Regions from separate parts of the Homo sapiens genome. Here region 2 is linked to region 1. The links come from fine-mapping of genetic effects on gene expression. A gene starts in region 1. The other region holds a variant in brackets. All regions are shown on one strand. Distances are from middle to middle. Region 1 holds the start of NUBP1 (NUBP iron-sulfur cluster assembly factor 1, cytosolic). Region 2 overlaps NUBP1 (NUBP iron-sulfur cluster assembly factor 1, cytosolic).

Region 1 (15,518 bases):
GTGCACGGGAAAACGCCATCCACAGACCAGCACTGGCCTCAGGTGCCCTCTATGGAGCCATCCGGGGAGAACAGCAGAGCGACATCATCGGAAAACCTGACTTGCTCTCTCCGGACCTTGATACTTGGGACTGATGTGTCAATGATCCACGGGGAAATGACACTATCACTATGACTGTGATAGAGACTTTCCTCGATACTCTCAGGTTTCTAGTGACTCTGTCTCCATGCCCTTCCTTTAGGGAACAATTTAATCAATTCCCTTTAGAGGAATTTCACTCCCTTGGGGAGTGAATCTTGAGCGAAATGATGTAAGGATATGAGAAGCAGATCCAGCGCACTCTCTCACTCCCGTGGCAGGCCCGAGAGGCTGTTGACAAGCTCCTGCTACCCAGATGGCCAGGACGGCCCTGGGTCCTGTCTGTTCAGACTTCCTGTTGATCTTATTACTACCCCAAAATCTGTCCATTTAATTTTGCTTAGGTTAGGCCAGAAAAGCAAAGCTGAGAGCAATGCGCCTGCGTTCCTCCCAGCAGGACCTCTGGGCCTGTGTTTGCAGCTGATGGGAAGAGGCCGCGTTTGCTGCAGAAGGTGGAGATGCTGCAAGGCTGTCGGGACCCAAAGCGTCTCCTTTACTCAGCACCCCAAACTGCCCCTGATGAGGAGGGTAGGGGAAGAGGGATTTAGTCCTAACTTTTAGTCCTTGCACAAGTTGCTTCTGCTTTCGAAGCCTTGGCTGTCTGGGCTTCTGATCTGTGAGACAACTGCTCCGGGGTCATCAAGGCCCCTCTCAGCTCTGCAGTCCCAGGACCCAGAGGAGGGCCTCGCACACTCAGTCCTGAAACACCTAGTGCTGACCTTGTTATGACAGTTTGCCTTTCAGATCACAAAGATCATAAATGTTTAATTTATGGTGGCTGGGTGTGGTGGCTTACGCCTATAATTTCAGAACTTTGGGAGGTTGAGGCAGGCGGATCACCTGAGGTCAGGAGTTCGAGACTAGCCTGGCAAACATAGTGAAACCCTGTCTCTACTAAAAATACAAAAATTAGCTGGGTGTGGTGGCACACGCCTGTAATCCCAGGTACTCCAGAGGCTGAGGCAGAACTGCTTGAGCCCGGGAGGTGGAGGTTGCAGTGAGCTGAGATCACACCACTGCACTCCAGCCTGGGCAAAAGAATGAGACTCCGTCTCAAAAAAACAAACAAAAAAAGTTTAATTTATGGAAGTTGGTGACTTGTTATTTATTCATTGTTTTTGAGGTAGAGTCTCACTCTGTTGCCCAGGCTGGAGTGCAGTGGCATAATCACGGCTCACTGCAGCCTTGACTTCCCAGGCTCAAGTGATCCTCCTACCTCAGTCTCCTGAGTAGCTGGGACTACAGGTGCTTACCACCACACCTGGCTAACTTTTTTTATGTTTTATGTTTTGTAGAGACAGGGGTCTCACTTTGAAGCCCAGGCTGGGAGTCGGTGACTTTTGCAGTGGAAGACAGTGTATGACTCTTGGCTGTCTCATGGCTCAGGCTTATGCTACAGAGGCTCCTTCTGCCTTCACCACAACTTACACACTCCCTGGGCAGCCTGTGACTCGTCAGGGGTGTTTTCTAATTCTGCTCTCTCTTGATCCAAGGCCCTTTGTGCCAATGAGATGACAGGCGCCTGCCTGCCTCAAGCGCTAACATGGAATGGTCTTGCACAGAGTTAGAGCCAAGCTTCCACCAGATGGCAGGCAGAAAAAGGTCAGGGCATGTCCCACCACCCTGCTGGATTTAGGGCAGGGAGAAATCTGTGCTGCTTGACTTTAATCAAGACATATTCAGCATTTTCCATGTGTTGACACTTTGCAGATAGTGATGTCACTGTCATGAGTAGGTCTGCCTGGGGAAAACACACTTTCCTAAATGCTGACTTCTTTTTTTTTTAAACCACCACTGCATAAAAAAATACAGCTGATCTAGCCATATTTCCACACTGAATGGTGTGCTTTCCTTCTGTATACTGCAAAGTCTAGACAGGCATGCAGCAAAGACTTCAGAACGTAATTACATGAAAGTGAAGGATGTAAACAGTTGTCTACTCACAAGTGGTTACTTGCAAGTGGTGAGATGAAAGCCCATCTCCAGTGAGCTGTTTAGGAATATTCCTGACAGCTTCGAAAAGCAAAGATTCTTCTAAACGATACAGACAATCTGAGAAAGCAGATTTCTTGGCCAGCCCACTAGGCCAGTACAGATTTGACCCTCAAATGGCAAGAGATCGCTGACTCACAGAATGACGAATCAACGTGTGTGTGTGTGTGTGTGTGTGTGTGTGTGTGTGTGTGTGTGTATGTGTCTGTGTATCTATCTATATCCTTTTTTTTTTTTAAATGGAGTCTTGTCTGTCACCCAGGCTGGAGTGCAGTAGGGCAATCTTGGCCCACCGCGACCTCCGCCTCCTGGGTTCAAACGATTCTCATGCCTCGGCCTCCCGAGTAGCTAAGACTACAGGCACGTACCACCATGCCCAGCTAATTTTTGTATTTTTTAGTGGAGACAGGGTTTCACCATGTTGGCCAGGCTGGTCTCAAACTCCTGACCTCAAGTGATCCGCCTGCCTCAGCCTCCCAAAGTGCTGTGATTACAGTGTAAGCCACCATGCCCTGCCCAACAAGTGTATTTTGAATCTGCCCAGTACTATACCTTGGGTAGGCTACAAACTCATCTCTAAGGCAGATGTAATCATCATCCCTTCATATCCAGAGAGTGAAATAAAGTAATAAAAATGGTGGCCATCACAGACCTTTACTGAGCATTGACTATTCGTCGGGCCCCGTGCTAAGTGCTTTACTGTGCCATCTCACTCAGTCCTTGGAGTCCCATTTTATAGATGAGAAAACGGAGGCAGAGTAAGCCTGGTAACTTGCCCAAGGTCACAGCAGTGGTGTAGATGGAGCTGGGACCTGAGTTTGGGCTGTCTGACTCCAGAGTGTGTGCTCTTAGCGACCCACCAACCCCTTTTATTAAAGTTGAGATCCAGAGGGCAGCAGTGGGTAATCTGAGTTTTCATGCTCGTCTGTATGCATGGGTGGAAATGAATAAACTCGTGTAAGGGCCAGCAAAAATTTTCCACAAGGGCCAACAGCAAATATATTATTAGGCTTTGTGGGCAAAATCAAGGATCATATGTAGGTACTTAGGTACTAATTTAAAAATTGCAATTTTAGGCCAGGCACGGTGGCTCATGCCTATAATCTCAGCACTTTGGGAGGCCGAGGCAGGGGGACGCCTTGAGTTCAGAAGTTCAAGACTAGCCTGGGCAACATGGCAAAACCTCATCTCTACAAAAAACCCAAAAATTAGCCGGGCATGGTGGCAAGCACCTGTAGTCCCAGGTACTTGAGAGGCTGAGGTGGGAGGATAGCTTGATGAGCCCAGGAAGTAGAGGTTGCAATGAGTCCTGATCATAGCAATGCACTTCAGCCTGGGTGACAGAGTGAGATCCTGTCTCAAACAAACAAAAAACATTTCAAAAATGTGAACATTCTTAGTTCAAAGGCCATAAGGCAGGAGATGGGCTGGATTTGGCCCACTGGCTATAGTTTGCAGGTCCCTGGCTTAGAGAAAAGCTAAAAGGGGTTAATAAAGAGGAAAAAGAAGCGTGAACGTAATGTAATAAACTATCCACATGCAAGGACAGATGTACATCTGCTAGCCATTTTCTTGGCTAGGGAATCCAGTGAAATGCTTCATTTGACTACTGGGCATTTCTTTGCTCTCTGCCGGATTGAGATTCCAAAGAGGCCAATTCAACTTAGTATAAGGAATCATTTTTTTTTCTTCTTGGACAGTCTCATTCTGCCACCCAGGCTGGAGTACACTGGTACAATCTTGACTCACTGCAACCTCTGCCTCCTGGGCTCAAGCGATTCTCATGGCTCATCCTCGCGAAAAGCTGGGATTACAAGCCTGCGCTACCACGCCCAGCTAATATTTTGTATTTTTAGTAGAGACAAGGTTTTGCCATGTTGGCCAGGCTGATCTCAAACTCCTGGCCTCAAGTGATCTGCCCGCCTTGGCCTCCCAAAGTGCTGGGATTACAGGCATGAACCACTGCGCCTGGCCTAGGAATCAGTTATTTAGTAGCCATCACGACCCTCAGACAAAATGAGCATCTCCCAGTGGTTCCTGAGGTCTCACCTGTGTGTTTTCATCCTCTGCTAGGCCATGGGCAAGGTGGGCGCTGAATGTGCTTTTCCCAACACCGCCTTTCCCAGACAATACCAAGATTTTGTGTTTTACAGTCTTCATTTTCTCTTTGATTTCCTCTATAGCTGCAAAGAAAACCAAAGTTCAGGGGATGAGGTCCCACACCAAACCTCGAATGTCACGCTTCCAGTCAACTAGAAAGAGCTAAGTCCTAGTCCTAGTACTAGTCCTGGGGCTGTTTAAAACGATCCTCTGAAATACCTCTCAGACAATGGTAGAAATAAGTGCTAGGAAGAAAATAAGGCTATTATCACACTTGAAGGGGTCTCATTTATTGGTTTACACGTTTGTCTCCCCCAACTAGAACATAGTCTCCACAAAGGTAGGAACTGTCTGAAGCTTTCAGTGCTGTATTCCCAGCTCCAGAAGAGAACTTTGCAAACAGCAATGGTCACCAACTTGGGGACAAAATCCCCCAGAGACATTTGGTAATGTCTGGAGACACTGTTCTTTCTTTCTTTTTTTTTTGAGACAGAGTGTTGCTCTGTCGCCCAGGATGGAGTGCAGTGGCGTGATCTCGGCTCACTGCAACACTGCCTCCTGGGTTCAAGCGATTCTCCTGCCTTAGCCTCCCAAGTAGCTGGGATTACAGGTGCCTGCCACCATGCCTGGCTAATTTTTGTATTTTTAATAGAGACGGTGTTTCTCTATGTTGGCCAGGCTAGTCTCGAACTTCCAACCTCAAGTGATCCACCCACCTTGGCCTCCCAAAGTGTTGGAATTACAGGTGTGAGCCACCATGCTCAGCCTGGAGACACTTTTCATTGTCACAGGAGAGGTACTGCTGGCATTTAATGGGTACAGCCCAGATTGTGCTAAATGTCCTACAATGCACAGGACAGCCCCCCACAACAAAGAGTGATCCTGCCCCAAATGTCAGCAGTGCTGAGGTTGAGAAACTCTGATAGACAGCAGGCACATACTAAGTATCTGCCAATGAAACTATCTTATTTCAAATCCTTAAAACAATACACGAGGTATAAAGGAAATTAAAAAGTCTCATGACTGGCCAAACTCAAGTGAAAGTTAAGCCTGGAAACCTCCCAACACTGCTGTCCTCCTCCCCATCAACAGACAGCTGTTACTTCCCAACCTTGTGTCAAAGCATTCTACATTAACCAGACACCTGCAAAAGGCCAAAGGCCCCATGCAATCCATTGTGGGATGACTGCCCTCACAAGTTGCTCCTAAGGAACTCCTTTGCTGGCCCCTAAATCTTTGAAGATGAGTATCCTCCCATAAACAAGGACATGCCAACTGTAACTTTAGGACTGTAACCTCAGTCTAACTCCTTCCCTATTACTGATGTCTGTTAAACGCCACACTGACCATGTCCATTACAAGCTTATCCTCCCACATGCCAAACAAAGATGGGATGAGATAGTCCTTCCTCTCCTACCCTGAGACGTCTGCCTAATTAATTCTTCCTTTATTCCCTCTTTTGAATGTTTACTTTATTTTCTGAATAGTGTAGATATACTGGGCACGAATTAAAACCTCACAAGAATGTAACTACCTGCCACGAGGCCTACTGCACTTTTTCCTGCATGCTTTTTCCCCTTTTAATGAAATATATAAACACCAGCCTTCTGGAACCACTCCATCGAGCACAGGCCACAGATGTTTCTGTCACTTGTATTTTCCAGGGCACGCCCTCAAGCTCTGGCCCAATAAACCTCCACTGAGGCTCAGTTCAGTCTCTCCATTGCATTGACAGAGATAACTATTTTTCTCTTCATTTTTTTTTTTCTTTGAGACAGGGTCTCACTCTGTCACCCAGGCTGGAGTGCAGTGGCACGATCTCAGCTCACTGCAACCTCCACCTCCCGGGTTCAAGTGATCCTCCCACCTCAGCCTCGAGGGCGGGCATGCACCACCATGCTGGCTAATTTTTGTATTTTTAGTAGAGACAGGTTTCACCATGTTGGCCAGGCTGGTCTCGAACTCCTGACCTCAAGTGATCCATCCACCCGCCTCGGCCTCCCAAAGTGCTGGGATTACAGGCGTGAGCCACTGCACCCGGCCTGTCTCCATTTTTGATGAGGAACCAGAAGCTCAGAGAGGTTAGGACTATTGCTGAAGGTCACACCGCATGGATCCAAGAATCAAATCCAAGTCTCTCTCTGAACTCCTTCAAGATTCTCCCCCTTGGCCAGGTGCAGTGGCTCATGCCTGTAATCCCAGCACTTTGGGAGGCCCAGGCAGATGCATCACTTGAGGTCAGGAGTTCGAGACCAACCTGGTCAACATGGTGAAACTCTGGTTCTACTAAAAATATAAAAATTAGCCAGCCGTGGTGGCAGGCGCCTGTAGTCCCAGGTACTCGGGAGACTGAGGCACGAGAATCGCTTGAACCTGAGAGGTGAAAGTTGCAGTGAGCCGAGATCACACCACTGCACTCTGGTCTGGGCTACACAGCAAGACTCTGTCTAAAAAAAAAGGGGGAAAAAAAAGAAAAAAAAATATTGTCCTCCTGCCTCCTGCTTTTTAAGGTCCTTCTGAGCAGGCTCCCTGGGTCCTCTCATCCTGGAATCTGTGCTTCACAGCACTTAAAGCTGCGGTGGTTTAGTTGCTAGCTCACGTGTTTGTTTCCCCAGTAAAGCTAAACTCCACTAGAGCAGTGACCACGCCTGATCCCCAGCTGTGTCCCCAGGACAGCACCAAACCTACGAGGCGATCAACACATTTCTGCTGAATGAGTGGGAGAATCACTCCTCAAAAGGAAGAAAATTGTGTCAAGAAAGTAGCTGGCAGAGCCAGGATGTAAGTCCGAAGACTCCCCGACTTCGAAGCTTATCCCGTTTTTCTCTGCGGTCTGTTATTGTCACTCAAACCTCTGGCCCCGACCCTCTTAATTAATGTCCCTTTCGACTCCGCGCCGGTCAGTCTCCACCCTCCATCCGCGCCAGGTCCTTCGCGCTCGCCTTCTAAAGGCCTCGTTCCTGTCAGTCATTCCAAGCTCCGCCCTCACCCTGCCCACTTTCCACGCCCCGCCCCTTCTGGGCCCCACCCCTCTCCGAATACAATACCTTCTAGCCTGCCGCTGTCAGTCATTCTGCAGATCCCGCCCCCTCCCTCCCACGCCCCGCCTTTTCCGGGCCTGCGCCTCTAAGTTCCTGTTGAGGCCTTGCCCTTTTCTCACCCGTGTCCGGAGTGGCCCCCGCTCCAGAAGCGCACAGCCGCTGGTTGGGGCATCCCTGACATGAAGCCCCTCTGCCCGCCTGGGCGCTGTCGGCCCCTGGACAGTCTGCGCAGAGACAAGACCACAGTTAGAGCAGCTCCCGACACTTTCGCCCCGCGACCCACGCCCCCTCCGCGAGCTTACCGTGAGGCACCTCCTCCATTCCGTCGCCTTTGCCGCCTTCGTGGTCACCGGAACCCGCTGTCGTACATTTCCGCCTTGTGGGCACAATCTGATTCTCCGACCGCGCGAAATAAGTCTCGGAAAGGGGGCTGTGCGCACGCGCGAACCTTGGGCCGAAAGACTGGGACTCAACGTCTGTTCCTTTTCAGAGATTTCCTATCATAAATACTTCTGCAGTGCATCTCCTAAGAACAAAGCCATTCTTCATGACATCAGTGCCATTTTCATACCCAAGAGATTTAATATCGATGCAGTACTAGCCAATGCAGTATTAGCCAATAGACAGTTTATATTTCAATTTCAGTTGTTAGACCCCCTCCCCTGCTGGATTCACTCACTGCCTGGAGTTATTTCTCTTCGGTCTCCTTTAATTCAGATCAGTCCTTCTTTTTTTAGGGGGGGTCTCATCACCTTGATAATTTTGACGGGTCCAGACCAGTTGTGTAATAGAATATCCCATATTCTTGATTTGTCTAATCCTCCCCTCCCTCTTGCCTTGTAATTAGATAAAGGTTAATTTTTCTTTTTTCCTGCAGAACACACTTGGATAATGTCAGTTTGTCCCGTTTTTGGTAATGTGAAGCTTGATCGCTTGCTAAAGGTGGTGTCTGCCCCATTTCTCCATTTAATGTTTCCTTCTTCCATTTGTAATTAACAGGTACTCTCTGGGACCATCTTCTTCTCTATCAGCCTTTCACTCAGTGATTTTAGCAGCATTTATATATATATATATAAAACTATAGATTATATATATGATAAATATATATCAGTTTTATACCCTCTCTTTTTTTCTTTTTTTTCGAAGACTCACTATGGATTCCTGGATTTTTTAAAATTGTCTTTTATAATCAATTATTATTCTTTCTGGTCGATTTTTTTTCCCCCAGATGTGGCCAGTGAAGCCCCTTCAAGACAGTTCTTATGTTCTTTGGGCACTAATCCAGCTTCTTTGAGCATTTTCTTGCTTTCTGATACAAGATGTTTCAGTCATCCCTTCTCCCTGCTGCAGTCATTTCTTCAGGGAGCCTTGGTTACTTTTTAGCAGACAACAGTTCAGAAACCAAGATGTGGATGCCACAAATGCTCATTGCTACTGGAGTGTCATTGCTCACAGGTTTGGCACCTGGAATATTAATGAGTGAACAAACTTTACCTAGCCCCAGACACTAAGAATATGGAAACGTTTATTTATTTATTTATTTTTGAGGCGGATTCTCGCTCTGTCACCCAGGCTGGAGTGCAGTGGTGGGATCTCGGCTCACTGCAAGCTCCGCCTTCTGGGTTCACGTCATTCTCCTGCCTCAGCCACCCGAGTAGCTGAGACTACAGGCCACCACGCCCGGCTAATTTTTTGTATTTTTAGTAGAGACAGGGTTTCACCATGTTAGCCAGAATGGTCTCGATCTCCTGACCTCGTGATCTGCCCGCCTTGGCCTCCCAAAGTGTTGGGATTACAGGCATGAGCCACCGCACCCGGCCTCGGAAACATTTATTAAACAGCAGTGTATCAGCTGCCTGTCACTACCACTAATTATAGCCAGCATTTTGTAGAATACTTACCGTTTGGCAGCTGTCATCTTTGTGCTTTCATGTGAATTACCTAATTTATGTCCTTTCATAGTCCTACTGTCTCCATTTTTGGATAAGGAAACTGAGGCTTAAAGTAAACTACTTTCCCGAGGTCGCATGACTGGTAGCAGGGGAACCAGGGTGATAAACTTGGTCTGTCTGGCTGCAGAGCCTGCACTTAGTAACACATGGTCCCAGCCAGCACTGGGCTAGATGCCAATGATTCCAGACTAACCTGGACCCTGCCATCTGGAGCACAGTCTGGTCGGGAGAAGAGGACCAGAGTGATGGGGCATCAGCAAAGGCCTGGAGAGCAGAGAGGAAGTCACCTATCAGGTAGGGACTGTTGTCATTTCCGTTTTACAGGTGATAAGATGGCTGCAAAGATTTACTTGTCCACAGTCTGAGAGGCAGAAAGAGCAGAACTGGGTTTTTAACCAAGTCTGATACAGGGCCTTTGCTATTAATCACTATACTGTATATTAGAGGGCAGGATGCAAGTTATTCTCCTTTTTATTTTTATTTTTGTGGGATGGAATCTCACTCTGTTGCTCATGCTGGAGTGCAGTGGTGTGATCTTGGCTTACTGCAACCTCCACCTCCCGGGTTCAAGCAATTCTCCTGTGTCAGCCTCCTGAGTAGCTGGGACTACAGGTGCCCACCACCACGCCTGGCTAATTTTTTGTATTTTTGGTAGAGACGGGGTTTTACCATGTAGGCCTGGCTGGTCTCGAACTCCTGACCTCAGGTGATCCACCCGCCTCAGCCTACCAAAGTGCTAGGATTACAGGTGTGAGCCACCGCGCCTGGCCAGGGCCGCTTCTTAAGGTGAGTGCTCCCCAAGACTCTGTTCTTGGGCCACTTCCAGTCCCACTTCCCACTTCCTCCTGGGCAAGCAACTGACAGCCCTGATGCTATCCATCTTCTGTCTCCAGCTCCCACACCTCTTGCTCCGTGAGTTCGGATCTGTGGATCCTACCTTGTGCCTATTGGATTTTATTGCATGGACATCCCACAAGCGTAACAAATAAACGTCTACAACTTCTTCTCAAGGCGGTTCCTGCCTCTGGATTTGTTATACCTGGACAGGGCATGACCCCTGGGCTAAGAACTCAAGCCGTAAATCTGAGTATCAGCCTTGTTTAGTTTTCTCCATCTCCATCAGTGATCAAGTGCTGTGTGACAAGTCACCCCAATATGTAGTGGTTTAAACCCACCATGGTTTATTGCTTCCTGTGACTCTTCTGGTTTCACCTGGGCTCCCTTAATGTGGCTTCATTCAGCTGGGAGTTGGCTGGAAGGTCTCAAATGGCTTCACTCTCACACTGGCCTTGATTCCCCCCTCGTGGCCTCCCTCTCTCATTTTTCAGTGGTCTAGCCTGTGTCCCTTTAAATGGCAGCTGGGAATGACAAAGCTGGGAAGTGGCAGTCACTTTCACCATGTTCTCTCGGTCAAAGTGTCACAGACACAGACTCCTCTTGTTGATTAGTGGGGTGGCGTACCTATACAGGGATGGGGGTCAGTGTTGTCCATAGAGACGCCCACAGCACCCCCTGCATCCAATCAGACATCAGGTCAGCAGCTGCACCCCTAGGTGGTAGGCTGGTAGCACACATGACCCCACTTCTCTCCCTGTCTGGATCTGTGCCCTTGGCTGCTGAACTTTGCAGTGCCCTCCCACGTGCGGGGAGGGGGTTCCATCCTACCCCTTGACTCTGTGCTCAGGCATGTGACTTACTTTAGCAAATGTGATTCAAGAAAAAGCTTGTAATGGGGCTTTTGCCTGTTTTAATCCCTCTCCAGCTCCCCTGCCACTTAAAGGTACACAGGCTAGGAGAAGGTCTGGGCTCGCCCATGGGAGGTGAAACACCTGGAACTGAGCTGAGCCACCCCTGTGCTCTCAGTGAAGGCCTCCTAAACCAGCGGCCCAAGACACATGAGAAGAGTCCAGCCAAGAGCTGCAGATCCACCCACCCAGACCCACAGATCCACCCATCCAGACCCACAGATCCACCCACCCAGACCCACAGATCCACCCATCCAGACCCACTGATCCACCCATCCAGACCCACAGATCCACCCATCCAGACCCACCGATCCACACATCCAGACACACAGATCCACCCATCCAGACCCACCGATCCACACATCCAGACCCACAGATCCACCCATCCAGACCCACAACTGGCCATAGATGCGTGAGTCCTGAAGAACCACCTGGCCAATGCACAGGCTGGTGAACTAGCTAAATGCTGGTGGTTTGACACTGTTGAGTTTGGGGTAGCTATAGACAACTGACACTCCATGCCTTCCAGCATCCCTCCTGCCTCAGCTCAGGCCCCCTCCTCCTCCTGGTCCTGCAACAGTGTCTGTTTCAGCCAGGATAGGCTAGTCTGCGCTGCCAAAACAGACATCCCCAAACTGAAGTGGCTCAAGGCAATCAAGTTTATTTTGGCATTTGCTCCATATGTAACTTCATGGACAGAGGTTCCTGCTCCCTGTGGTTCCTCAGGGACACAGACTGAAGCTCCACCGTCTCCTGTGGCCCCTTTTGAACACAGAGGACACAAGCCAGGGGAATTGTACCCTGATTCTGAAATGCTTCCACTAGAAATGACACCTATCTGCCCACTTTTCATTGGCTACAATTAGTCACACACGTCAGGTGCAGTGGCTCACACCTGTAATCCCAGCATTTTAGGAGGCCAAGGCAGGAGGATTGCTTGAGGCCAGGAGTTGGAGAACAGCATAGTGAGACCCTGTCTCTACAAAAAATTTAAAAATTAACTGGGCAAGGTGGTGCATGCCTGTAGTCCCAGCTACTTGGGAGGCCGAGGCAGGACGATTGCTGGAGTTGGAGGCTGCAATGAGCTGTTATCACAGTACTGCCCTCCAGCCTGGGCAGCAGAGTGACACCTTGTCTAAAAAAAAAAAAAAAAAAAAAAAAAAGGCCAGGCGCGATGGCTCACGCCTGTAATCCCAGCACTTTGGGAGGCCGAGGCGGGTGGATCACCAGGTCAGGTGTTCAAGACCAGTCTGGCCAACATAGCGAAACCCTGTCTCTACTAAAAATACACAAAAAATTAGCTGGGTGTGGTGGTGTGCGCCTATAATCCCAGCTACTCAGGAGGCTGAGGCAGGAGAATTGCATGAACCCGGGAGGCAGAGGTTGCAGTGAGCCAAGATTGTGCCACTGCACTCCAGCCTGAGTGACAGAATGAGACTCTGTCTCAGAAAAAAAAAAAAAAGGTTGGGCGTGATGACTCATGCCTGTAACCCAGCACTTTGGGAGGCCGAGGCGGTTGGATCACTAGAGGTCAGGAGTTCAAGACCAGCATGACTAATAGTGTGAAACTCCGTCTCTACTAAAAATACCAAAAATTAGCCAGGTACAGAGGCGCATGCCTGTAATCCCAGCTACTTGGGAGGCTGAGGCAAGAGAATTGCTTGAACCTGGGAGGCAGAGGTTGCAGTGACCCGAAATCACACCACTGCACTCCAGCCTGGGCAACAAGAGCAAAACTCTGTCGCAAAAAAAAAAAAAAGTCACATGGTCATGCCTAAAAAAGTATAGGAAGTACAGTTTTATATGACTGGAAGTGGAGGAAAACCAGATATCCAGGATCACAGTGATGTTTCCCACAGTTCCCTGAATTGTTTCTCAGTCTTAACATTCTTTCCCCATGAAAATCAGACCAAGTCACTCTGCTGCTCATAAACCGTCAGTGGCTCCCTATGGCCCACAGGATAAGGCCCAGTTTTCATATGGTGTTCAGTAGCCTGCATGACTCATTTTGACCCTTCCAGCCTGAGTGTCACTGAGAATATCGAGTCTATTCACTAAACAGCTGGCCTTTGCCTGGCACCCTAGTTCATTGCTGTCACTCACACAGGCCCTTCTGCCAGGAAAGGCCACTGCCTGTCTCTCGCCTATCTGGCTGTGGCCCAGTCCTCTGTGACAGGCCAAGTCTCAGCAGCATCTCCCCATGGAGGCCATTCCTGGCCTGCGGAACTGAACACACTGCGTTCCAGAAGTCTGAGCACGGTTTTCCATTCTAACAACTTCCGAAGTATGAATGCCATAAACTTAACAAAAATTAGCATTTGAAATTTTGTGTAATTTTCCTTTACACTTACTTAGTTCTGTGATTTTGAAAGACTAGATTTTAAATTTAAATTTAAATTTTTTTATTTCAGTTCCTCTGACTGAAGATGGTGAATAATGACTAAAAATGAAAGTTAAATTTACAAAGCTAAGTAAGTGCCAAGGATTTAAATAGACTTCAAAATAATTTTAAAAATAAATTAGTAAAACTATAGAGTCCGAAGATCAGGGTTGCTAGGAGTTCAGCGGGTGGGAGGGGATAAGGGGTAAACGGGAGCCCAGGGAACTTTTAGGGCAGGGAAGCTGCTCTGTGTGACTATGTAATGGTGGATGCATGTCATTATGCATTCGTCAAATCCCATAGAACGTACGACACCAAGAGTGAGGCCTAATATAAACCATGGGCTTTATTTAATAATAATGTGTCAATATTGGTTCATCAACTGTGACAAATGTACCACACTAATGCAAGATGTTAAAAATGGGGGAAACTGGGCAGGCGTGGTGCCTCATGCCTGTAATCTCAGCGCTTTGGGAGGCCGAGGTGGGTGGATCACCTGAGGTCATGAGTTTGAGACCGGCCTGGCAAACATGGTGAAACCCTGTATCTACTAAAAATATAAAAATTAGCCGGATGTGGTGGTGTGCGCCTGTAGTTCCAGCTACTCGGAAGGCTGCAAGGCAGGAAAATCGCTTGAGCCTGGCAGGCGATCTCACCACTGCCCTCCAGCCTGGGCAACACAGCGAGAATCTGCCTTACCAAAAAAAAAAAAAAGATTAGTGGATGAAACAAGACTAAAACCTGGTTACAGCGGCTAAAAATTTCAGCCAGACAGGGGCACTTTAAATATTCAAACAAGGTCAGCGAGCACCCTTAGAAAACACAGGAAGTGCCTGCGGTTCCTTAGTTATACCAGCAGGTGGAGCTCTCCCCCCACCTATGATCAAGGTACTCAGGCAATGGAAACAAAATTAAGTTTAGGTGTAGAAAATTTTCTGCTTCTTCCCTGGGATCCGGCAAATATAACAAGGGGCTATATACACACCAGGTGTTCAACACATAATTGAGTCGAAAAACAAGGCTCAGATGCATTATATAGAGAGAAACTGGAAAGGACGTGGATCCTTGAATGCCAGGTGTTCGCATTCAGGCTCCCTGTCTCAGTTTCCGTCTCTGAAAAATGTCAACAATAATATTCAAGGAATTATTGTTGGGAAGATTAAACAAGTTAATGAGTAAAACAGTTTTTTAGAGTGTCTGGCACTTTCAAGCCCTATATAGGTGTTAGTAATTATCAGTTTATTTCTTTTTTTAATGAGACAGAGTTTCGCTTTGTCTCCCAGGCTGGAGTGCAGTGGCACAATCTCGGCTCGCTGCAACCTCCGCCTCCCAGGTTCAAGCGATTCTCCTTCCTCAGCCTCCTGAGTAGCTGGGATTACAGGTGCCTGGCACCACGCCCGGCTAATTTTTGTATTTTTAGTAGAGACGGAGTTTCGCCGTGTTGGCCAGGCTGGTCTCGAATTCCTGACATCAGGTGATCCATCCGCCTTGGCCTCCCAAAGTGCTGGGATTACAGCCGTGAGCCACCACTCCCGGCCGGTTTATTTCTTAAGCTGCTTTGTTGAGGTATACCTGATATACAACAAACTGCACATATTGTAAGTATACAATTGCCAAGTTTTGACATATGTATGTACCCAAAGGTTTCCTTGTGGTCCGCTCTTGTTCTTTAGCAATCACTGACCTGTTTTCTTTCACTGTAGATTAGTTTGGATTTTCTAGAATTTTATATAAATGTAATCATACAGCATGCACGCTTTTTAATTCAGCTTCTTTCACTCAGCATATTTATTTTCGTTTCATCCACATTGTTGCGTGTATGAAGCTCGTTTCCTCTGGTTGCTATGTGGTATTCCATTGTATGATTATACTAGTTTATCTGTTAATGGACATTTGGCTGTTTCCAGTTTTGGGGTGTTACAAATAAAGCTGCCGTGAGCATTTTTGTGCAGGTCTTCATAGTGACGTGTATCTTCATTTCTCTTGCTTAAATACCTAGGAGTGGAATGGTAGATGTGCATTTAACTTTTAAGCAACTACGAGGCCGGCACGGTGGCTCATGCTTGTAATCCCAGCACTTTGGAGGCCAAGGCGGGTGGATCACGAGGTCAGGAGATCGAGACCATCCTGGCTAACTCAGTGAAACCCCCATATCTACTAAAAATACAAA
Region 2 (15,518 bases), 28 kb before region 1:
GGACTGAATGAGGACTTGGAGGATGCTGATGGAGCAACCTGCATAAAATAGGATTAAAGCAACATTTAAAAGGGCAACAGGCGTCCTCTTCTACTTGCTTTGGGCTTTGAACTCTGTTTGAGTAACACCACTTTCCATTGAGTTAATCAGGGCCCAGCTAAGTGGAAGCTATCAACAACTGGAAATTTTTCTGCATTTTATTTTAGGAGAGCCACAGCCAAAAAGAAAAAAGAAAGAAGCGGGTGGGCAAGGGATTTATTCGAATGCATTTACTTCCACATTTTACCATGGGTCAGCGCACACTTGGCTCACACTTTGACATTTTTTTGAGATCTGTATGTTTTGTTGTTTTGAGATGGAGTCTTGCTCCGTAGTGCAGTGGTGCAATCTCAGCTCACTGCAACCTCTGCCTCCCAGGTTCAAGCAATTCTCCTGCCTCAGCCTCCCAAGTAGCTGGGATTACAGGCGCCTGCCATCAGGCCTGGCTAATTTTTGTAGTTTTAGTAGAGATAGGGTTTCACCATGTTGGCCAGGCTGGTCTCGAACTCCTGACTTCAAGTGATCCAGCCGCCTCAGCCTCCCAAAGTGCTGGGATTATAGGCATGGGCCACCGCGCCCGACCCTCTATCTTTTTTTTTTTTTTTACATTTGTATTGTTCTACAAAGAGGACAGATGTTTCCAGTGATTCTAACTGACTCGATTACAAGGTTCAACATAACAAATATGTTTGCGGAGAATCTTAAATACTGGGTGCTTTTGGGGATATAAAAATGTGTTAAACATGGTCTGTGCCCTCAAAGAACTTTCAGTTATTGAAAGAGCATTTATTTATCTCCAGGGGCAAGGGACAAAATTTTATTCAGTTAGGAAATTCTCAATTAGGTTTACAGCAAAAAGAGACACCCAAGAGTCTTATCTTCTGGAACACTCCAGGAAGTTTTTAAGTTCTATGTGATCCTGTCTAATTCTTCGAGACAGCGATTTGCTCTGTTGCCCAAGCTGGAGTGCAGTGGCATCATCTCGACTCACTGCAACCTCCACCTCCCAGGTTCAAGCGATTCTCCTGCCTCAGCCTCCTGAGTAGCTGGGATTACAGGCACCTGCCACCACAACTGGCTAATTTTTGTATTTTTAGTAGAGACGGAGTTTTACCATGTTGGCCACGCTGGTCTTGAATTCCTGACTTCAACTGATCTGCCTGCCTCGGCCTCCCAAAGAGCTAGGATTACAGGTGTGAGCCACCACACCTGGTGATCCTGTCTAATTCTTCTTTTATTTTTATTTTTATTTTTTTTGAGACGGAGTCTCGCTCTGTCACCAGGCTGGAGTGCAGTAGTACGATCTCAACTCACTGCAACCTCCGCCTCCCAGATTCAAGCAATTCTCCTGCCTCAGCGTCCCGAGTAGCTGGGACTACAGGCGCCCACCACCACGCTCAGCTAATTTTTGTATTTTTAGTAGAGACGGGGTTTCACCATGTTGGCCAGGGATGGTCTCAGTCTCTTGACCTCGTGATCCACCTGCCTCAGCCTCCCAAAGTGCTGGGATTACAGGCGTGAGCCACCACGCCCGGCTTGATCCTGTCTAATTCTTAAAAGCCGGGTGCACTTCCTGGGTTGGTTTTCATTCAGGTCACCAGGAGAGCCAAGAGCCTGAGAGGCTCAGATGAGACCCATCCTGGTGAATAGTTGGTGCTTTGCTACGCAAAAAAGTCACTGTGAAGTCTGCTTCTGAATCTTAACATTCCCCTGGGAGTCGGAAGCCCCACAGTTGTAGAGGCACCTGTGGTTTGTTGACTCGGACTCCGTTTCTTCTTGGGGAGAATGAGCAGGCGCTTTCCCCTGCAGTTCTGTGTGGATCTCTGTGACCACCCCATTCGGCCCCGCATTTTCCAAAGCCCACAACATTTTGTAACCTAATCCAGAGGTTGCAAGCTCACTGCTCGCAGGCCAGTGAGAAACACAGACTGATATTTCAGTAAAAGAATTAGTGGCCATCATTTAAAATCAGATTTCCCATTGCAAGTCTGGATTTCTGACTTCTCATGAAAATCTTGGCTCTGGCAGTACTGGGTCTGGTTTGCACAGCTGCCTGGTGCTGGGAAGAGTCCCTTTCATCCCTCCCTTTTCCTCCCCTGCCCTGAGGTGCGGGTTTCATTCTCATCCATCACTGTGTCAGAGGCGTGTGAACCAGAGCAACTCCATCTTGAATAGGGGCTGGGTAAAACGAGGCTGAGACCTACTGGGCTGCATTCCTGGACGGTTAAGGCATTCTAAGTCACAGGATGAGATAGGAGGTCGCACAGGATACAGGTCATAAAGACCTTGCTGATAAAACAGGTTGCAGTAAAAAAGCCGGCTAAAACCCACCAAAACCAAGATGGCCATGAGAGTGACCTCTGGTCGTCCCCACTGCTACACTCCCACCAGCACCATGACAGTTCACAGATGTCATGGCAACGTCTGGAAGTTGCCCTATATGGTCGAAAAAGGGGAGGCATGAATAATCCACCCCTTCTTTAGCATATCATCAAGAAATAGCCATAAAAATGGGCAACCAGCAGCCCTTAGGACTGCTCTATCTATAGACTAGCCATTCTTTATTCCTTTACTTTCCAAATAAACTTGCTTTCACTTTACTCAATGGACTTGCCCTGAATTCTTTCTTGGGTGAGATCCAAGAACCCTCTCTTGGGGTCTGGATCTGAAACCCTTTCTGGTATAACAACTGGGCTCGTGCCATTGATTTCCTGATCATAGTTGAGTATCGTTCTCTACCTGTGTGCTCTATTTAAACTGGGAAACCACAGAAAGAAACAGAAACCCACAAGTGTCTTCAGTCTGGCCCACATCACCCACTGCCATCACCTGCTCTATACAATTTGGTAACCTTTCTTTTCTTGTTTTTATTTTTTTATTTTTTTATTTTTTGAGTTGGAGTCTGACTTTCTCACCCAGGCTGCAGTGCAGTGGCGTGATCTTGGCTCACTGCAACCTCCGCCTCCCAGGTTCTAGTGATTCTCCTGCCTCAGCCTTCCGAGTAGCTGGGGTTACAGGCAGCCGCCACCATGCCCAGCTAATTTTTGTATTTTGAGTAGAAATGGGGTTTCACCATGTTGGCCAGGCTGGTCTTGAACTCCTGACCTCAGGTGATCCGCCCGCCTCGGCCTCCCAATGTGCTGGCATTACAGGTGTGAGCCACCGTGCCTGGCCTATATCAGACTTACATTAAAAAATAATAATAATAAAAAAAATAAGGCCAGGCGTGGTTGCTTATGCCTGTAATCCCAGCACTTTGGGAAGCCAAAGTGGACAGATCACCTGAGGTCAGGAGTTCGAAACCAGCCTGGCCAACATGTTGAAATCCTGTTTCTACTCAAAGTACAAAAATTAGCTGGGCGTGGTGGCAGGCGCCTATAATCTCAGCTACTTGGGAGGCTGAGGCAGGAGAATTGCTTGAACCCGGGAGGTGGAGGTTGCTGTGAACCGAGATCACGCCACTGCACTCCAGCCTAGGGGACAGAGCAAGACTCCATCTCAAAAAAAAAAAAAAAAAAAAAAGAAAAGCAATTTACACAGGATGAGCATGTTCCCCTTGGCTCCCTCTCTTCTTTCTGGCCAGGTTTGTGTCTAAAGGCACAGTGAACAAGAACCACCTTCCCCTAGATTAAATGCCAGGATTCACGTGCCATTCACCACTGAGCAAGTATGATGAGTTAGACCTGCCATTCACAGGTCACATGTTTCCCTCTGTCCAGGAACACGCATTCCCCGATGACATGAGACACCTGCCCCGTGGGCTGCGTGTGAGCTTGGAGCTCAGTGACTGGTGGTGGAAAAACCCAACCTTTACCTTTAGGGAACTGGCCGTCATCTCTGCTAGGCGGGAAGGCAGTGACTGCTGTCACGTTTCACTTCAAAGATGACCGTGTTTCGAAGAGGGCAAGTGATATTTGGAGTCAAGTGGCGGGAAAGTACTGGATTCTTCGAAGGGGAGGAAAAAAAACAGTGTCAGCATGACTGTCTGGGGACTGCTGACCTAATGATGTGTCCCCAGGGCTACAGCCTGAGTTTCTGCGTCATATGCACCGGGGAGAACATTCCATTGAGCCACGCTAACACCCCCAGCAAAGTCTGAAGTGGTAAAGGGAGTTCAGTGACCATCCGCTTAGCTCTTGGAGTGAGGGCGCCTTCTGGGTCCTTTCCTAGACACCCCTTGGCCACCTTTTTCCACCTGTTTTTCCGAGTGAGTGCCATCGTCACCTACGTGAGCTGCGACTGGTTCAGCAAGAGCTTTGTGGGCTGTTTTGTCATGGTGCTGCTCCTCCTGTCCCTGGACTTCTGGTCTGTGAAGGTGAGGCCCTTTCGTGTGATGTCATCACTTCCGAAACACGAGGCTTGTCCCCTGTGTGCGTGGTACCAAGAGGTACTTTGGTTTAGACTCCTGAGACATGCTTAAGAGTGCTGAGCAGTGTCACTTAAAAGTAAGGGGAATGGAGAAACCCCGTCTCTACTAAAAATACAAAAATTAGCCTGGCGCGGTGGTGTGTGCCTGTAATCCCAGCTACTTGGGAGGCTGAGGCAGAAGAATCACTTGAACCCGGGAGGCGGAGGTTGCAGTGAGCCGAGGTTGTGCCATTGCACTCCAGCCTGGGTGACAAGAGTCAAACTCTGTCTCGGAAAAAAAAAAAAAAAAAAAGAGAGAGAATGAGAGCCAAGTGAGAGGGGTTTCCCTTATAAAAACCATCAGATCTCGTGGCACTTATTCACTACCATGAGAACAGTGTGGGGGAAACTGCCTGTATGATTCAATTATCTCCCACCCGGTCTCCCCCACAACACGTGGGAATTATGGAAGCGACAATTCAAGATGAGGTTTGGGTGGGGAGACAGCCAAACCATATCACTTGTATACGAATTAATACATATATTTAAAACATATATAATATGAACATATAAATTATATATGTTTTGTGGGGGGAGTGTGTAACTTTTTAAAGTAAGCTTAGTTGAAAACTAGAAGTCTTGACATCTGAGAATCCACTACAATTCAAGGCCTTTTTTCTTCCTGCTCCCAGTACAAGTCTGAAATGAATCAAGGAACTTTTGTTTATCAATACAGTGAATAAGCCTCTTTGCCTGTGACCTGCTCAGAGTCCTTTGTCTATTGTTCTCAGAATGTAACCGGAAGACTCCTGGTGGGCCTTCGATGGTGGAACCAGATAGATGAAGATGGGAAGAGCCACTGGATCTTTGAAGCCAGGAAGGTATTCTCCATGACGAGCTGAACTAACCAGAGCGGGGATAATGGGTGTGGAAAGTTTCTGTGGGTTCCTTTGGAGTTTTGTGCATATCTGATTCCTGCCTTACACAAAAGCCACCATTGCCAAGGTGCTCTGGTGAAACATGGGTGTGGCAAAAGTGTCTCCAAAATAGACCGGGCGTGGTGGCTCACGCCTGCAATCCCAGCACTTTGGGAGGCGGAGGTGGGTGGATCACTTGAGGTTAGGAGTTTGAGACTAGCCTGGGCAACATGGTGAAACCCTGTCTCTACTAAAAATACAAAAATTAGCTGGGCGTGGTGGCAGGCACCTGTATTCCCAGCTACTCGGGAGGCTGAGGCAGGAGAATCACTTGAACCCAGGAGGCGGAGGTTCCAGTGAGCCAAGATCACGCCACTGCACTCCAGCCTGGGTGACACAATGAGACTTTGTCTCAAAAACAAAACAAAACAAAACAACACCAACAACAAAAAATCCCACAGCAACAAAAGCATCTGCAAAATAAAATAAATGAAAATGTGAGCACGCTCGTTTGCAACCATTTCCACTTGTTTTGACATTTGAATTACTTTCCTTTAACAGGTCTCTCCGAATAGCATTGCTGCCACAGAAGCTGAAGCACGAATCTTCTGGCTGGGCCTCATAATCTGCCCCATGATATGGATTGTGTTTTTTTTTAGCACCTTATTTTCCTTGAAGCTAAAGTGGCTGGTAAGGCCAGATCTTGACTTCCACATTGCTTTGATGTCTCTGCAAAAAAAGTGTTTGCACCACTAGGCTTTTGTTGTTATTTGTTATTGATTGATTGATCAATTATAACAAGTTTATTGAGATATAATACACATTCCATACAATTTACCCATTTAAAGTATACAATTAGGGGCTTGGCATGGTGGCTTACGCCTATAATCCCAGGCCTTTGGGAGGCCAAGGTGGAAGGATTGCTTGAGCTCAGGAGTTCGAGACCAGCCTGGGCAACATAGCAAAACCCCATCTCTGCAAAAAATGCAAAAATTAGCCAGGCATGATGGTGTGCACGCTTGAGCCCGGGAAGCAAAGGTTGCAGTGAGCCAAGATTGTGCCACTGCACTCCAGCCTGGGTGCTAGAGTGAGACCTTGTCTCCAAAAAATAAAATAAATACTAAGTGTGGAATTCAGTGGCTTCTAGTGCAGTCACAGAGTTGTACAGCCAAAACCACCATCAATGTTAGGAAATTTTCATCACCGGAAGAAGCCTTGCGCCCTTTTGACATTGCTTCCCTGTGCTTCTGTTCCTCCAAGCCCTGGCACCTATTAATTTTTCTGTTTCTGTGGATTTGCCTATTCTGGGCATTTCATATAAATGGACTCACACAGGCTGGCACAGTACCTCACATCTGTAATCCCAGCACTTTGGGAGGCTGTGGCAGGTGAATCACCTGAGGTCAGGAGTTTGAGACCAGCCTGGCCAACATGGCAAAACCCTGTCTGTACTATAGATACCAAAATTAGCTGGGCGTAGTGGCACACGCCTGTAATCTCAGCTACTTGGGAGGCTGAGGCAGGAGAATCGCTTGAACCCAGGAGGCGGAGGTTGCAGTGAGCCAAGATCGTGCCACAGCACTTCAGCCTGGGTGACAGAGTGAGGCTCCGTCTTAAAAAAAATCAATAAATAGAGAAAACAAAATATTTGTAGATAGTAAAACAACAGTGTCATTTAATGAAAGTGCGGGCCCTGGAATTTGGATCCCGGCTCGACCACGCTCCAGCTCTGTGACCTTGGGCAGCTTTCGTCTTCCTGAGCCTCAGTTTCCTCTTTGTAAAATGGGATGATGATGGTGGCAACCTCTCCAGTTGTAATGATTCTGAGGTGTCCGTGGGTATTTGCAAATGCTCAGTAAATGTTGGCTGTTACTATTCTTAGGTGCAGGCTAGAGCATTTCTACGTGGCTTGAGAGGTGCATTTCTGTAAATGCTCTTAGAAAGTGACCTTTGCGTCAGATGGAGACCATCCTGGCTAACATGGTGAAACAGTGTCTCTACTAAAAATACAAAAAAATTAGCCAGGCCTGGTGGCGGACGCCTGTAGTCCCAGCTACTCGGGAGGCTGAGGCAGGAGAATGGTGTGAACCCGGGAGGCGGAACTTGCAGTGAGCTGAGATCGTGCCTCTGCACCCCAGCCTGGGCGACAGAGCGAAACTCTGTCTCAAAAAAAAGTGACCTTTGCTTTCTTTGTCTGAGTGCAGGCTCTGGTGGTTGCTGGGATCTCTCTCCAAGCTGCAAACCTGTATGGCTACATCCTTTGTAAGATGGGAGGCAACAGTGACATTGGCAAGGTCACAGCCAGTTTCCTGTCCCAGACAGTGTTCCAGACGGTGAGTAACTGAGGTCTGACTCTTGGACCACTCCTCTCCAGGTAGTCAAAGTCAAGGTGGCCTGCTGGCAACTGCGGTTTGTAATGTAACATATCCGCCAGGCTGCCAATGTTTTATTGTTTATATATTTTTTGGGAGACAGGATCTCGCTCTGTCACCCAGGCTAGAGTGCAATGGTGTGATCGCGGCCTATTGCAACCTCCATCTCTTGGGCTCAAGCGATCCTCCCACCTCAGCCTCTGGCACAGTTGGGACTACAGGTGTGTACCACCATGCCTGGCCTTTTTTTTTTGTAGAGACGAAGTTTTGCCATGTTGCCCAGGCTGCTCTAGAACTCCTGAGCTCAAGCAGCCCGCCTGCCTTGGCCTCCCAAAGTGCTGGGATTACAGCCATGAGTGAGCCACTGTGCCTGGCAGTTTTGTTTTTTAATTGTAAGATTTACATAAAATGTACCATTGTAACCATTTTAAAATGTATAGTTCTGTGGCATTAAGTATAACCACTTTATTGTGCAACCTTCACCCCACCCAGCTCCAGAACTGCTTTCATCTTGCAAAACTTAAGCTCAGTACCCACAAAACACTAACTCCCCCTCCTCCTCGCCTCCTAGCCCTAGCAACCAGCATTCTGCTTTCTGTATCTATTGGTTTGACAGCCCTAGGGACCTCCTATAAGTGCAATTATAGTTTTTGTCCTTTTGTGACTGCCATTGTTAGTTTTCAGTGATTTTTAAAAGTATAGAATTAAGGAAAGAGTCACAAACGGTTTTTCAATTTTTTTTTTTTTTTTTTTTTTTTTTTTGAGATGGGAGTCTCACTCTGCTCCCAGGCTGGAGTGCAATGGCATGTGTTGGCTCACTGCAACCTCCGGCTCCGGGTTCAAGTGATTCTCCTGCCTCAGCCTCCCAAGTAGCTGGGATTACAGGTGCATAACACCATGCCTGGCTAATTTTTGTATTTATAGTAGACGGGGTCTCTCCATGTTGACCAGGCTGGTCTCGAACTCCTTGCCTCAAGTGATCTACCAGCCTTGGCCTCCCAAAGTGCTAGGATTACAGGCGGGAGCTACCGTGCCCAGCTTGTTTTTGTTTTGTTTTTTTTTTTTAACTTAATAGATATTTCTAAAAGTGAGAGACAGAAGTCTTTGAAATTTGACCAGGTTCATCCTGAAATGGGTAGAACCGTCCTAAATTTGAACAGCACTGCTTTATGCCAAGACATCAAGCAACCAATTCCGCAGGTTTTCTGTACTTTGTGGGTTTTCTCTGGCCTTCCATCAGCAGGATCGCCCCACTCGCGTGTAAGGACAGAAAACCATGGTTGACTTTTCCCCTTGCAGGCCTGCCCAGGTGACTTTCAGAAGCCTGGCCTCGAGGGGCTGGAGATTCACCAGCATTAGGTGAGAAATGGATCATGGCACCCGTGTGGAGGAACTGGGGAATTCTGAAAAATGCAGCTCTTGGGGCACAGGGGCCCGGGGTCTGGGTGGGCTTCCCCTGTTCCCTGGGGTGGCCAGGCATGTGACCAGGCAGGAAGCAGACTGGGCAATGGGCCTGCCCTGGGCTTTGCAGCCTCATTGCTCTTGGCGTGAGGAGCTGGGGGTCGGGGGGCGAGGTCACACCTTCCTCACACTGAACATGTGCAAATCTGATCATATGTATGGTCCTAGGGAAGGGCGGGGAGGGAAGAGACAAGGGAGGGAAAGAACAAGGGGATTTGTTCTTGTTTCCCACCCACCCACTTTTATGCCCCAGAGTGGAGGGAAAACAGGAATTTACTCTTCTCCCACGTGGTCTCAGATCCTGTGTGTCTCAAACAGAGCAAGCACCTCATGGCAAAGAGGATGATCGTAGAGTTTACATCTGTCCCTCTTTTTTATATAATTAAAAAACCTGAAAGTTGGTTTGCATGACACTGGACATTACTGGATATACTGTGCACATATTACTACACAGGGAATTTACACAGACCCCACATTCTGTCTTACTGGGTGATTCAAGGACTCTTCAAGGGCTTTTTGATTTGACCCAGCTGTGTCATATGCAGTGATTTTAGAACGAAGCCCAGCCTGAGCTCTGTTGCTTTTAGATTTTTCCTCAATCTGAAGAAAAGC[G/A]TTTGGACTGTGGTGTTTGAAAACAAGCCTGTGTGTTCTGCAGTGAAGCCGCACACTCACCCCTTTGGTTCTTTTCTAGGCTTTCTTATCTTCACAGGCAGAAATGGCTTAAACGGGAGTTTCTACAATCGACTAAGCTTCCGACACAGCAGAATCCCACGATCCCACAACCCATTTGTTTTTTACGTGAAACAGGCCTCGGGGGAGAGATTTGAGGGGGTTTTATTCTTAAAACGGCACATTTGTAGAGAATGCCCTTTATATATGTTCTAAAGAAAAGTGTACAAATACTCAATGATTAAAGTGTCTCTGAGAAAGTGGCTTCGGACCACACCAGCATCTGGTCCTTTTGCTGTGACCCACCCCATCCCGGAGCTGGTCGGGTCTGGCTGGATGTGCTGCCCAGTGAGTGCCTCGCTCGGTAACTGCTTGGTCCTGAACATTCTCTCGTTTCAGGAACTGATGAGGTTCTCTTCTTTTGACTGATGGAGATTACAAAACTCTTGGATTCCTGGAAAACAAGACGACAGGCATAGAGTGCTAATGGCTTGTCTACCCCTTGACAGCCCTGTCCTGTGCTGGGGAGGGCTGTGTTTTGACAGGGGTGGAATCCTCTGGCTAGTTCCATAAAAAGACCTGTGTCTGTGATGCCCTGAGTCTTTGAAAGTGACCGGAATACCTCACACTACCCATCTTGCTCATAACCAGTGGCTGCGGCCTTCCTCGGACCATCTATAGATGGAGGATTCTGGGAATGCTGTTTCCTTACCCTTGACATCATTCTTCTAGGCAAGTAAAACCCAGCCACAAACTCAGAGACCACAGCTTTAACAAACACTGACACCTCTGCCCTAACTCTGGGGCCTCTGATGGCTGCCACTGGCTGAATGTGGCCTGCACGTGGGTTTGGTCTGGCTCAACAAAGTTTTTATTTTTATTTTTTATTTTTTTGAGACACGGTCTCACGCTGTTGCCCAGGCTGGAGTGCAGTGGCGCGATCTCGCCTTACTGCAGCCTCCGCCTCCCAGGTTCAAGCGATTCTCCTGCCTCAGCCTCCTGAGTAGCTGGGACTACAGGCATGCGCCACCACACCCGGCTAATTTTCATATTTTTAGTAGAGACAGTGTTTCTCCATGTTAGCCAGGCTGGTCTTGAACTCCTGACCAGCCTCAAGTGATCTGCCTGCCTCCTTCACCCAAAGTGCTGGGATTCCAGGTGTGAGCCACTGCACCTGGCCTTTTTTTTTTTTATCAGTTACTTTTAAAAATGAATTACTTTATCCCTTTATTGGGATGTATTTCCTAAGCCATAAATTTCACCCTCACCATGTTTTTTAAACTATGAATTAATTCACAATACTCACACATTGAGAGATTTCTCATGGACTCCTGGCTTCCTCGGCTATGGGGGCCACTCTGTGGTCATCACAGACCCCACCACCCACCTGTCCTTCCACACCCCTGGCTCCTTTATGTTGCTTCCTGCCCCACAGGCATCTGCATTTAGTACTCATGGAAATACTTACTCTGAATTATACTTCTGTAGGCTAACGTGGCTGGGGAATCTGGGGCGTCAATGAAAAAAGACTGGCCTTTGTCACAATTCTTACCTTAAAAAAGAAACAAACGGAAGACAATTCAGTCCAAGAGGAAAACAGAATGGCCACAAGATCTTGGGGCTCTTTCCGTGCTGGTGACAATGGGAAGATCTTGAGCCCGCTTCACTCGTAATGAAGAACAAAGTAGAAAAGACCAGTGGGGTCTCAGGGACCTTCCTTCCAGCAGGGTCCCCAGCCAGCATTTCAGCGTGGCTAAATAATCAGGTGGTGTACAGAAAATGCAGGTTCCAGGGCCCTACAGAGAACTGATTCAGCAGCTTCCACATGGGCCCAGGAGTCTGCATTTTAAGAGATTAGCTTTTGAGTGAAAGGATCATGAATGCACATGGTTAAAAAAAGTACAGAATGCAAAAGGATATGGCATAAAAGGCCAAGTCCGAAAAGGGCTACTAGTGTTCTAGGTGTCTTTCCAGAAAGATTATGCGCATATAAATGTGCACACTTGCATGTGTGCGCACACACATACACACACTCTCATATACCTAAAATACGAATGGGAGCACATGACACACACATTCTGCCTGCTGCTTTGTCTGTGTATAATTTTATCTTCCAGGTCATCTGTGCTGGTGTCTATCAGTCTGCTAGTCTTTCCCCGCCATGTGGCCATTGTTCCAGTCCCCTCCTATGCACACCCAGGTTTCTCTAGGACCATGTTATCCCAGAGCCAGGTGGACAGGACACAAGGGGCTAGGGGTCAATGGGGGTGTTCTCGCCTCCAGTCTGCCCTGCCAGCCCCCAGTCGTGGGTGGACCTGCCATCAGCTTGCTCTGCCCACTCCCCAGGCCTGAGCTGCTGGCGAAACAGGCAAGTGACTGCACTGCCCATGGCCGGTCACCAGCCTCAGGTGAACCCCAGGAGGGGTTCCTACCTAGCACTCATCATTTCCTCAACTTCACTACTGTGTCGCCCTGTGGGACAGGGAAGTCCAAGTCGGGGAAGAAGCCTGTGGGGAGGGGTTGGTGGGAGATGGGGAGCCCATATGGCCCAGTGAGTCAGGAAAATAGGGTCCAGAGGCAGGGAACATAAGGCCAATTCGCACTTGAGCCATAACAGGAAATGTCCTCTCCATAGGACGTATGCCGTAAATGACTTTGTAACTTTACTTCATCCTTTTCGTTTATATAGGGCGTACCTCAAGTAGAGGGTATTTAAACACAAAAACTCTGTAATGGGGCCTTTGAGCCCCTATTCTCAGGCCCGTTCTCCTCCCACACCGTGGAGTTGACTTTCATTTTCAATAAATCCCTTCCTTCCTTCCTTTCTTTGTGCGTTTTGTCCAATTTTTTGTTCCAGACACCAAGAACCTGGACATCCTCCGCCGTTAACGCTGGGCCCATGAGACCATGTGGAACTCGCTAGGGAGGCCCCTGAGTGCACGTTCGCTGGGCCAGACCTGGGAGGTTGGGGATCCCAGAATAGTCATGCTGGGGCTACTTTCTGTCCCTGACTTTCACCCAGGTCTCCCTTCCCCAGAGGGCTCCCCAGCCCCCAACACACATATATGCTCTAGTGTTTTCCCTTCCTAACTGCATTTCCCCCTGGGCTCCCACCTCTCCAAGAACGGGCAGCATTATCAGAACAGCTGGTGTGAGCACAGCCCTGTTCCAAGAGATCCCAGGCATCCTCTCACCCCACCCTGGCAGATCCCTCTCACTAGGCACCACTGTCACCTGCATTTTACACACGGGGCCATCGAGGCTGAGAGCGGAAATGACTAGCCCAAGTCCCACAGCTAGTGGTGGCGGAGCAGGGCTCTGAGGCCAGCCCTTCCTGTGATCCTCAGCACACCGGGACCAGGACCCATAGCACCAGAGCGCTGGCATCTGTAACTCTTTGCCACCATGTCCCCAGAGGAGACTGAAGTGCTGTCCTCATGCCTTCCTGTCTGTTCCTAGGAAGGTGGGTTTTCCCCCACTCTGTCCCCAGTGACCTTGCCAGATGCGTGTCTGTCACTTGGCCCTCATGCTCCACCCTCTTGGGTGGGTGACAGTGTTAACCACCCCTTCCTTTCTGGCACTCCCTGGCCTTGCTATCTGTGGCTTCCCCTCAAGGTGAGCTTCTGCAATGTGCCATTTGACACACAGGACCATGCCCACTAGAAGGCACTTAATGTTCTCAGCTCAGAATGAGCCTCGCAGCTGTCACTGGTGGCTCCTCTGCTTTGAAATTAGCTCTTGTGAACCACCTGGAACTTTGTTTCTTTGTGAAAAGTGGCCCTGAAAGGAAAGACCAGGGCCAATGCCAGGGCTTGGTGTGAGGGAGGTGGGAAGATGGAGGTTGCTGGCTCTTTGGAAGAAAAGCCGTATCAGGATCTAATAGCCCCAAGGTCACTTCCTGATCTGTCAGACAATGGCAAGGGCAGGCCTGTGGCTGGGCCCGTGGACATATTTGGGTGGGTCAGCAAGCATGCCATTTTTAAATTTTTTTTTGAGACAGGTTCTTGCTCTGTCGCCCAGGCTGGAGTGCAGTGGTGTGATCATGGCTCACTGCAACCTCAACCTCCCTGGGCTCAAGTGATCCTGCTAACTCAGCCTCCTGAGTAGCTGGGACCACAGGCACATGCCACCACACTGGGTGAATTTTTTCCTTTTTTTTTTTTTTTTTTTTTTAAGAGATGAGGTATCTTCCTGTGTTACCCAGGCTAGAGCATGGTTGTGTGTGTGTGTGTGTGTGTATTTAATGGAGTTAGTTGCTATCATTTAGTATCAGGAGACTTTGGGTAAGGATATAGATTTCTAGCTCTTCATTAAACCTTGGAAAATGTGGCAATTGTGATGGCCATAAGGACACACCTCTTGGATCTCTGGCAGCAGCTGCCATGCTCCAAAATCCACCACCACGTTTGTGTTGAGGCAATGCCACTCCCAGGCTGCTCCTAGCTAGTGACTGAGACGAGCATGGCACTCGGGCAGGCACGCTTCTGGGAGATGCAGCCCCTCTGATGGGTAAGTGGGCTCAGGAATGCCCTGGTGGCTGTGCCCAGCTTTCCTCGACAGCAGCCAAGACACTCCAGCAGACAGATGCTCCAACAGACTGACATACTCCAGCAGACTGAGATGCTCCAACAGACTGACATACTCCAGCAGACAGATGCTCCAACAGACTGACATACTCCAGCAGACTGAGATGCTCCAACAGACTGACATACTCCAGCAGACTGAGATGCTCCAACAGACTGACATACTCCAGCAGACTGAGATGCTCCAACAGACTGACATACTCCAGCAGACTGAGATGCTCCAATAGACCTACTCCAGCAGACTGAGATGCTCCAATAGACTGACATACTCCAGCAGACTGAGATGCTCCAATAGACTGACATACTCCAGCAGACTGAGATGCTCCAATAGACTGACATACTCCAGCAGACTGAGATGCTCCAATAGACAAATACTCCAGCAGAATGAGATGCTCCAATAGACAAATACTCCAGCAGACTGAGATGCTCCAATAGACTGACATACTCCAGCAGACTGAGATGCTCCAACACACTGGCATACTCCAGCAGACTGAGATTCTCCAATAGACAAATACTCCAGCAGACTGAGATGCTCCAACAGACTGGCATACTCCAGCAGACTGAGATGCTCCAATAGACTGCCACACTCCAGCAGACTGAGATGCTCCAATAGACAAATACTCCAGCAGACTGAGATGCCAAAAAGCAAAGTACACTGAGGTGCTCCAGCAGGCTAAGATGCTCCCATGGGCTGAGATGCTCCAGTGGGCTGAGACGCTCCTTCGGGCTGGGATGCTCCCGTGGGCTGAGATACTCCTGTGGGCTGAGATGCTCCTTTGAGTTGGGATGCTCCCGTGGGCTGAGATACTCCTGTGGGCTGAGATACTCCCTTGGGCTGGGATGCTCCAGTGGGCTGAGATGCTCCTTTGGGCTGGGATGCTCCCATGGGCTGAGGTACTCCTGTGGGCTGAGATGCTCCTTTGAGTTGGGATGCTCCCGTGGCCTGAGATACTCCTGTGGGCTGAGATACTCCCTTGGGCTGGGATGCTCCCATGGGCTGAGATGCTCTTGAGGGCTGGGATGCTCCCTTGGGCTGAGATGCTTCCAGGGGCTGAGATACTCCTATGGGCCGTGATGCTCTTTCGGGCTGATATGTTCCTTCCCCCACTCCTTCATCGTGGGCTAACGCT

Evidence for each region. PIP is the estimated chance that this variant, and not a neighbour inherited with it, causes the effect. A credible set is the group of variants that fine-mapping cannot tell apart.
Region 2: its variant is the best candidate, but not a certain one, in a credible set for the expression of NUBP1 in lung (TOPMed, PIP 0.77).

The regions. Positions count from the first base shown.
Region 1 is chr16:10,735,938-10,751,455 of GRCh38, reverse strand. It overlaps NUBP1 (NUBP iron-sulfur cluster assembly factor 1, cytosolic), which reads right to left and starts at 7,614. Exons shown (of 11, transcript NM_002484.4): 1 at 7,574-7,614; 2 at 7,391-7,495; 3 at 4,180-4,313. The coding sequence starts at 7,592. RefSeq lists enhancers at 7,756-7,805, 13,699-13,748.
Region 2 is chr16:10,763,788-10,779,305 of GRCh38, reverse strand. It overlaps NUBP1 (NUBP iron-sulfur cluster assembly factor 1, cytosolic), which reads right to left. Exons shown (of 11, transcript NM_002484.4): 10 at 11,274-11,357; 11 at 9,955-10,259. The coding sequence ends at 10,201. It overlaps TVP23A (trans-golgi network vesicle protein 23 homolog A), which reads left to right. Exons shown (of 8, transcript NM_001079512.4): 3 at 4,210-4,354; 4 at 5,178-5,267; 5 at 5,865-5,993; 6 at 7,508-7,636; 7 at 8,975-9,034; 8 at 10,205-12,631. The coding sequence ends at 9,034. Among named protein-coding and RNA genes, the nearest start is that of NUBP1, 28 kb to the right of the region's middle. The variant G/A (reference allele first, on the strand shown) is at 9,749.